Homo sapiens: one gene and its partner. The protein of the gene in region 2 interacts with the protein of the main gene of each other region in a pairwise test. Each region holds a gene or a part of one and is shown on either strand. Other genes may lie near its edges.

Region 1 (3,817 bases), on a different chromosome or scaffold from region 2:
ACCATTATTCTTGAATGCTTGTCAACTTTTGACAACAAATGAGTTTTGAGCTTTTCTCCTCCACATAAGCAGTATTTTATTTAATGGTGCTGGCACTTTAGTTGCCTACTTACAGCTCCCCCTGCCTAGAATGTTCTGCCTACACCTCTTCATATGGCTGATGTCTCTCATCCTTTGAGCCTTCATTTAAATTGTTCCTTGACTGATCTTCAAGATGAGACAAAGTCAGCTTGCTATGTTCTTTCTTGTACAGGACACCATACTTTCTCTTTCATAATTCCCTTTATTCTTGTCACTAATTGTCCAACATGTTTTCCTACTACAAGAACCAAGACATTAGTCCATGTGGCAGAGGCCATGTCTGTTTGTTTGCAGCTATATAAACCCCAGGAACGAGGTTTTCTACCTGACACACAGGTACACACAGGGATATTTTTTTTTAAAATTTTGTATTTAAAAAAATTATAGACTCACAAGAGATCACAAAGAAATGTACAGGGATTGGCCGGGCACAGTGGCTCACGCCTGTAATCCCGGCACTTTGGGAGGCCAAGGAGGGCGGATCACCTGAGGTTGGGAGTTTGAGACCAGCCTGATCAACACGGAGAAACCCCATTTTTACTAAAAATACAAAATTAGCCGGGTGTGGTGGCACATGCCTGTAATCCCAGCTACTTGCGAGGCTGAGGCAGGAGAATCGCTTGAACCTGGGAGGCGGAGGGTGCGGTGAGCCAAGATCGTGCCATTGCACTCCAGCCTGGGCAAGAAGAGCGAAACTCTGTTTCAAAAATAAATAAATAAATAAAAAAGAAATGTACAGGGAGGTTCATGCACTCTTCATCCAGCCTCCCACAATGTCAATGTCTTGCGTAACTACAGTACAGTAGCAAAACTACAAAACTGGTATTGGTACAAACCAGAGGTTATTCAGATTTTACCAATTGTATGTCTACTCCTATTTATACCTGTGTGTGGCTCTATGTAATTTTCCCACATAGGTAGCTTCATATAACTACCACCACAATCAATGATAAAGAACTGTACCATCATAAGACTCCCTTATTCTACCCTTTACAGCCACACCCACCCCTCCTCCCCTACTCCTCACCCCAGCAACCACTAACCTTTCTCCAGATTATATATAGTATTTCAAGAGTCTTCTATAAATGGAAACACCCAGTATGTCATGTTTTGGGATTGGCTTTTTTTCGCTCAGCATAATTCTCTGGAGATTCATTCATATTGTGTCTAAATAGGTCATTCCTTTTCACTGTCGAGTATATTCCATAGTAGGAATGTACCACAGTTTATTCACCCATTGAAGGATATATGGGGTGTTTTCAGTTTCATTGTTATTAAAAATAAAGCTGCTATGAATATTCATGTACAGGCTTTTGTGTGAACTTAAGTTTTCAGTCCTCTGGAACAGATGCCCAGGAGTGCTAATGCTGGGTTCTATGGCAGATGCACGTTTAGTTTGTTAAAGATACTGCTGGCCAGGCATGGTGGCTCACACCTGTAATCCCAGCACTTTGGGAGGCCAAGGCAGGCGGATCACAAGGTCAAGAGATTGAGACCATCCTGGTCAACATGGTGAAACCCCGTCTCCACTAAAAATACAAAAAAATTAGCTGGGTGTGGTGGTGTGTGCCTGTAGTCCTAGCTACTTGGGAGGCTGAGACAGGAGAATCGCCTGAACCTGGGAGGCGGAGGTTGCAGTGAGCCAAGATTGTGCCACTGCACTCCAGCCCGGTGACAGAACGAGACTCCATCTCAACAAAAAAAAAAAAAAAAAAAAAAAAATACTGCCAAACTATGTTCCAGAGTGGCTGCACCATTTTACATACTCACTGTAGTGTATGAGTGATCTAGTTTCTTTGCATTCTTGCTAGCACTTAGTGTTGTCATTTTTTATTTCAGTCATTCTGCTAGGTACACAGTGGTATCTCATTGTGTCATTAATGTGCATTTCCCTAATGGCTAATGTTAAACATCTTTCCATGTGCTTCTTTGCCAACCACACATTCTCTTTAGCAAAATGTCTGTTAATGTTTTTGCCCATTTTCTAATTGAATTGTTTGGTTGAGTTCTGATACTTCTTTTTTATTATTATTACTATTATTTTTTTGAGACAGAGTCTCTCTCTGTCACCCTGGCTGGAGTGCAGTGGTGTGATCTCAGCTCACTGCAACCTCCGCCTCCCAGGTTCAAGTGGTTCTCCTGCCTTAACCTCCCGAGTAGCTGGGGTTACAGGCATGTGCCACCACGCCCGGCTAGTTTTTATAGCTTTAGCAGAGACAGGGTTTTGCCATGTTGGCCAGGATGGTCTCAAACTCCTGACCTCAGGCAATCAACCCACCTCGGCCTCCCAAAGTGCTGGGATTACAGGCATGAGCCACCACGCCCCATGTGTTATTATTTTTGAGACATGGTCTTGTTCTGTTGACCAGGCTGCAGTGCAGTAGTGCAATCATAGTTTACCACAGCCAGCCTCAAACTCCTGGCCTCAAGCAATCTTCCTGCCCTGGCTTCCCAAAGTGTTGGGATTACGGGCATGAGCCACTGCACCAGGCCAAATGTCATTTATATATTCTAGACACTATAGTCCTTTGTTGGATACGTGGTTTACAAATATTTTCCCCCAGTGTGTAATTCATCTTTTCATCCTTTCCCACCCCTACCCCCAGCCATGGAGGTGTGATCACCACTCATTGCAACCTTGAGCTCTTGGGCTCAAGCAATCCTCCCACCTCAGCCTCCTGACTAGTTGGGACTATCAGTGCACACCACCACACCCAGCTCAATTTTTCAAATTGTTTTGTAGAGATGGGGTTTCACCAGATACCCAGGCTGGCCTGGAACTCCTGGGCTCAAGTGATCCACCCGCTTGGCCTCTCAAAAGTGGTGGGATTACAGCTGTGAGCCACTGCACCTGGCCCTTTCATCCTCTTAAGAGTCTTTTGCAGAGTAAAAGTTTTAAATTTTGATGAGGTACTTAGCATATTTTGATTTGACAGACTATATGAATCACAAAATAATTTCCTGAGCATCCTGTCTTCTTTCAACTTCTGAAACTCTACTTCTCTACTTCTGTTCTCAAAGTTGCTTAAAATGCTGGTCTATGACAAAATAATGAGTTGAATCAGAATATAAACCAATAGTATCATTAATCACCATGTTTAGTTCAGTTCATCTTTTTTTCATGAGGAGCCTTTTTTTTGAGACCGAGTCTCGCTCTGTCGCCCAGGCTGGAGTGCAGTGGCGTGATCTCGGCTCACTGCAAGCTCCACCTCCCGGGTTCATGCCATTCTCCTGCCTCAGCCTCCCGAGTAGCTGGGACTACAGGTGCCCGCCGCTGCGCCCGGCTTTTTGTGTTTTTAGTAGAGACAGGGTTTCACCGTGTTAGCCAGGATGGTCTTGATCGGCTGACCTTGGGATCTGCCTGCCTTGGCCTCCCAAAGTGCTAGGATTACAGGCGTGAGCTACCGTGCCCAGCCCTTTTTTTTTTTTTTTTTTTTGAGACAGAGTCTTGCTCTGTTGCCCAGGCTGGAATGCAGTGGCGTGATCTCTGCTCACTGCAACCTCTGCCTCCCAGGTTCAAGCAATTCTCCTGCCTCAGTCTTCCAAGTAGCTGGGACTACAAGCGTGCGCCACCATGCCCAGCTAATTTTTGTATTTTCAGTAGAGAAAGCGTTTCACCACGTTGGCCAGGCTAGTCTCAAACTCCTGACTGTAAGTGATCTGCTCATCTCAGCCTCCCGAAGAGCTGGGATTATAGGAGTGAGCCACTGCGCCTGGCCCATAAGGAGACTTTCTC
Region 2 (3,817 bases):
CCTGGCACACAGCAGTCAGCGCTCCCACTTCCCTTCTCCACTACGGTGTTTCTCTCTGGTGTGGTTTGGGTGGAAGTTACCAGAAACGCAAAGCCCTGGCACTGCTACTTCTCCTGGGGGAGAACAGATTTGTGGCCTGCCTTTCGCCAGGAGGGCTCCTGGCCTTGCCTTGCTGATCGGCAGAGACTTGCTCCTCAAAGGGAAGGGGTAGTTGGTCCTTCTGAGCCATGTTTCCAACCCATCTGGTAGGCTGGTCCCCTGCCCCGCTCTCACTGCAGCCCTGGGCCCGCTTTTCCTCTGGCCCTGCATGGAAGGGCCTGACCCACTGGCTTTACAGACACATGGTCACAGAGGGCCAGGGTCAGACTGAAAAGCCAAGTCTTTCAGCAGCAAAAATGGCGAAGATATCAAAGGGCGTCAATGCTGCTGGCTTGGCTTTTGCAGCAGGTCTCACCTCGGGAGGTGATGCCGGGCGACCTCCTTTCAGTCCTCCATGGCTCAGCCTGGCAGCTCAGGAGTGGGCATGCTGCGGCAGGTCCCATCTCACTACGCTGGGGCAACCATGCATGGGCACAGCTGCATGCAGTACTCTGCTCCTGGGGTCCACCCCAGCTATGATTCCTGAAGTGAATAAACCCTAAGTCACTTAGCAACTCACCCTTCAATCCTCTTCAACCTTCCTGAAATAGCAAAGTAAACCTTAGGTGGGTCAGAGTTCCACCCAAAGGCGAGCCTCTGTAGACACCTGCCATCCAATGGACCTTTGGGGACCCCCCTTCCCTTTCAACCTGGCTGGACTGCAGCAATACCTCCTTTATTTGATCCCTGTTTATGTCCACATATGTACTGTATTATCACAGATGCAACTGATTTATCATAGAGCACTCAGAAAACATGGAAAAGTATTTTTAAAAATCGAATAATCCTATTCAAGTCAACCAGTGTTAACCCCGGTGTGCTTCCTGCCAGTCTGTTCCTCCCCATGGGAGTCACACAAAATGAAAATCTCCTAGAAAGAGAAATTCCTCTGTCCTCTGACTTCTTCACTTAGTACGCTGCGACCTTCCCATGTTGTTCAACATCCTCAACTCGGAGCGTCACTGGCTGGAGGTGGTCTATAAATGGAATTGGCTTAACTATCTCTTCACTGAAAGGTGGACATTTAGGGAGTGTCCAGTTTTCAGCTGTCATAAACAACTGCCTTAGACGGCAAAGAATTCACAGGTCAATCGTTCCCTTCGCTTTGAACTTCTTCGCAGACCGTTCACTTGACCGAAGCTGGAATTTGCTCCCGTAAATGTAGGAAATAAAGCCATCGGTTTCCACAGTGAACACGCAGTTTAGCTTGGGGATAACTGAAAAAAAAAAAAAAAAAGGCAGGAGAAAAAAAGATGAGGAAAAATATTTATTAATATTTTACTTTTAGGTAGAATATTATTCAGAACACATTGAATGAAAAAAATAAGCTAATAGGAAACGGGAAACCCACAAGGGGAGGGGCATTAGGGTTGCCTGTGGTTATTCTGCCACAGGTCAATCTAGTCACATGCTAAATGTAGCTTGGCACCTAATCTTCAGGGTCAAAGGCTATACACCAAATTCCCAGAACCAGAAAGTCCCAGAACACCTGCCAGAAACTGGTTTTCCCACATTAACTTTCAGATGGGCTCCTGGCCTTATGCTCTGTGGAGAAACTATTACACCACTTTCCGAGGTTTACAATGTGAGGTAGAAGGATATGTAGGAAAATAAGGGAAGCAACAAGAAAAACCAAGCTCAAAAATTAAAGGAAGAAGGCTGGGCGCGGTGGCTCACACCTATAATCCCAGCACTTTAGGAGGCTGAGGCAGGTGAATTACTTGAGTTCAGGAGTTTGAGACCAGCCTGTCCAACATGGTGAAACCCTGCCTCTACTAAAAATACAAAAATTAGCCGGGCGTGGTGGCGCGTGCCTGTAATCCCAGCTACTTGGGAGGCTGAGGCAGAAGAATCCCTTGAATCCGGGAGTGGAGGCTGCAGTGAGTCGAGATTGTGCCACTGCACTCCAGCCTGGGTGGAAGAGTGAGACTGTCTCCAAAAAAAAAAAAAAGAAAAATTAAAGGAACAAAACCTTCTAACTATGGTTTGATATCTCTGGATTTGTGGGTAAGGCGGGGTGTAGAAATCCTGGCTGACCCAAAGTATCTGCTAGAGCAATGCTGGCCACGGATGGAACCCAAGTGTTATCGCCAAGGACACAGCTCAGAACTCCAGGGACAGGCGCCACTCCTGTTTCTACCCTGCTGCCTGTTTGGCTACATTCCTCTGGGAGCAGCAGCCTTTGGGGCAGGTGGAGGCCCTCTCCTGGGGCCTAAACAGACCCAGGTCCCCTGAGGCACAGCCGAGCAGGTCTTCCTTCCCCTTGGCCATTTCTGGCCGGGGTTGCAGGCTGCACTGACACACACCTCTTGGGGGAGCCACGGGTGCAGGGGATGGTCTCTGCAGGCTTTAATGCAGGTTCAGCAAGTATCTGCAATCTGCGCTGACTTGAGGGGTCAAATCAAACTCTTGGAGCCTTGAGGAAAAGGCTAACGCAGTAGCTGGGAGCCACAGCCCGCAAGCAATGCCCTCAGAAACACCTACATACCTTTCAGGCGGTCTTCTTTGGTGATAATTTTGAAAATGTGCTTTGTTTCCTGTAGAAGGATTCCTGTAATACCCACATAAGAGGGGCATTTGGATTTTGTCACTGCAAAGAAAAAGGACAGTTCCAGGCTCAGGCCTCTGTGGTGCTGGGGGAACCACAGAGAAGCAGGCCTCAGGGGTTGGGGGTGCTGATCCCACCCTCTGAGCTAGCAGATGAAAGAACAGAGCACCCAGGGGGTGGGGGCTCAACAGCTGGGCCCTGATGTAACCAACAAGAATCCAGGCTTCCCCTGGGGCTTTGCAGCCTCTGGACTGTTCCTATGAGGTGTCCTTCGGAGGGTCTGTGGCCACAGGGGTCTTGGGCAGGATTCTGGAATTAAAGGTCACATATGTGCCCAGCACCATCAGGGCCCACGGGCTGGCTGCTCTGATGCAGCCAGGTCTCCCTTGCAGGATCTGCACAAACACCACCATGCACTGCCCAGGATGCTGGCTGGAACGTGAGTGTGGCTGCAGAGCTGCCCAGCAGCCAGCACTGCGAGATGAGCCACCATCACAAGCAGCAGCCCCTCCCTCGTCCTGACCCGAGCCTCAGTGTAGCGGACAGAGTCACCAAGCAGCTGTGGAATGCCTGCACCATCCTCAGGAGATGCCAGGGACACAGCACGGAAAGAGGCGGTCCTGGATCCTACTCTCACGGAGCCCGGGTTCTAGCAAGGCAGGGTGATGCACGGTGAACCACACCATTCTACTTTCTGACAGCAACGAGTGCTATGAAGAGTAGGGACAGGGCAATGTGTGGAGGGTCATGGTTTGCAATGGTAGACCCTGAGGGGAGTGGCATTGGAGCAGGGCTGAACAATGAGAAGCTGGACTGTGCACACACAGGAGAACTCCCGGGTAGAGGTAAGGAGCAGAGGCGAAGCCCTGAGGCAGGGCAGGAGGAAGGCAGTGTGGGAGGCCTGCTGCCCCAGGGAGCGGGGAGGCCTTAGACCACAGCAAGGAGGCAGGTTTACTCCCATACGATGGGACGCTGCCAGAAGACTTGAAGCAGGGAAGGAACGTGCTCTGATTTCTACGTAACCGGCACTCTGGCTGCCTGGTGCGGTGAGGAGCTGTGTCTGAGGTAATCTGGGGAATGACAGTGGCTGAATTTAAGTAGTAGGATGTTCCGAAGGATTCGAGGAGATTA

Evidence for each region.
Region 1: the proteins of POP4 (region 2) and RPP14 interact in binary tests that used the Homo sapiens proteins (3 or more experiments, as listed by UniProt).

What each region holds. Positions count from the first base shown.
Region 1 is NC_000003.12:58,312,662-58,316,478, reverse strand, and holds part of RPP14 (ribonuclease P protein subunit p14), read right to left. Parts: intron 758-3,817; exon of another isoform or gene 660-757; intron 1-659. UniProt on the Homo sapiens protein: Component of ribonuclease P, a ribonucleoprotein complex that generates mature tRNA molecules by cleaving their 5'-ends.
Region 2 is NC_000019.10:29,612,782-29,616,598, reverse strand, and holds part of POP4 (ribonuclease P protein subunit p29), read right to left. Parts: intron 2,729-3,817; coding exon 2,627-2,728; intron 1,356-2,626; coding exon 1,219-1,355; 3' UTR 1-1,218. UniProt on the Homo sapiens protein: Component of ribonuclease P, a ribonucleoprotein complex that generates mature tRNA molecules by cleaving their 5'-ends.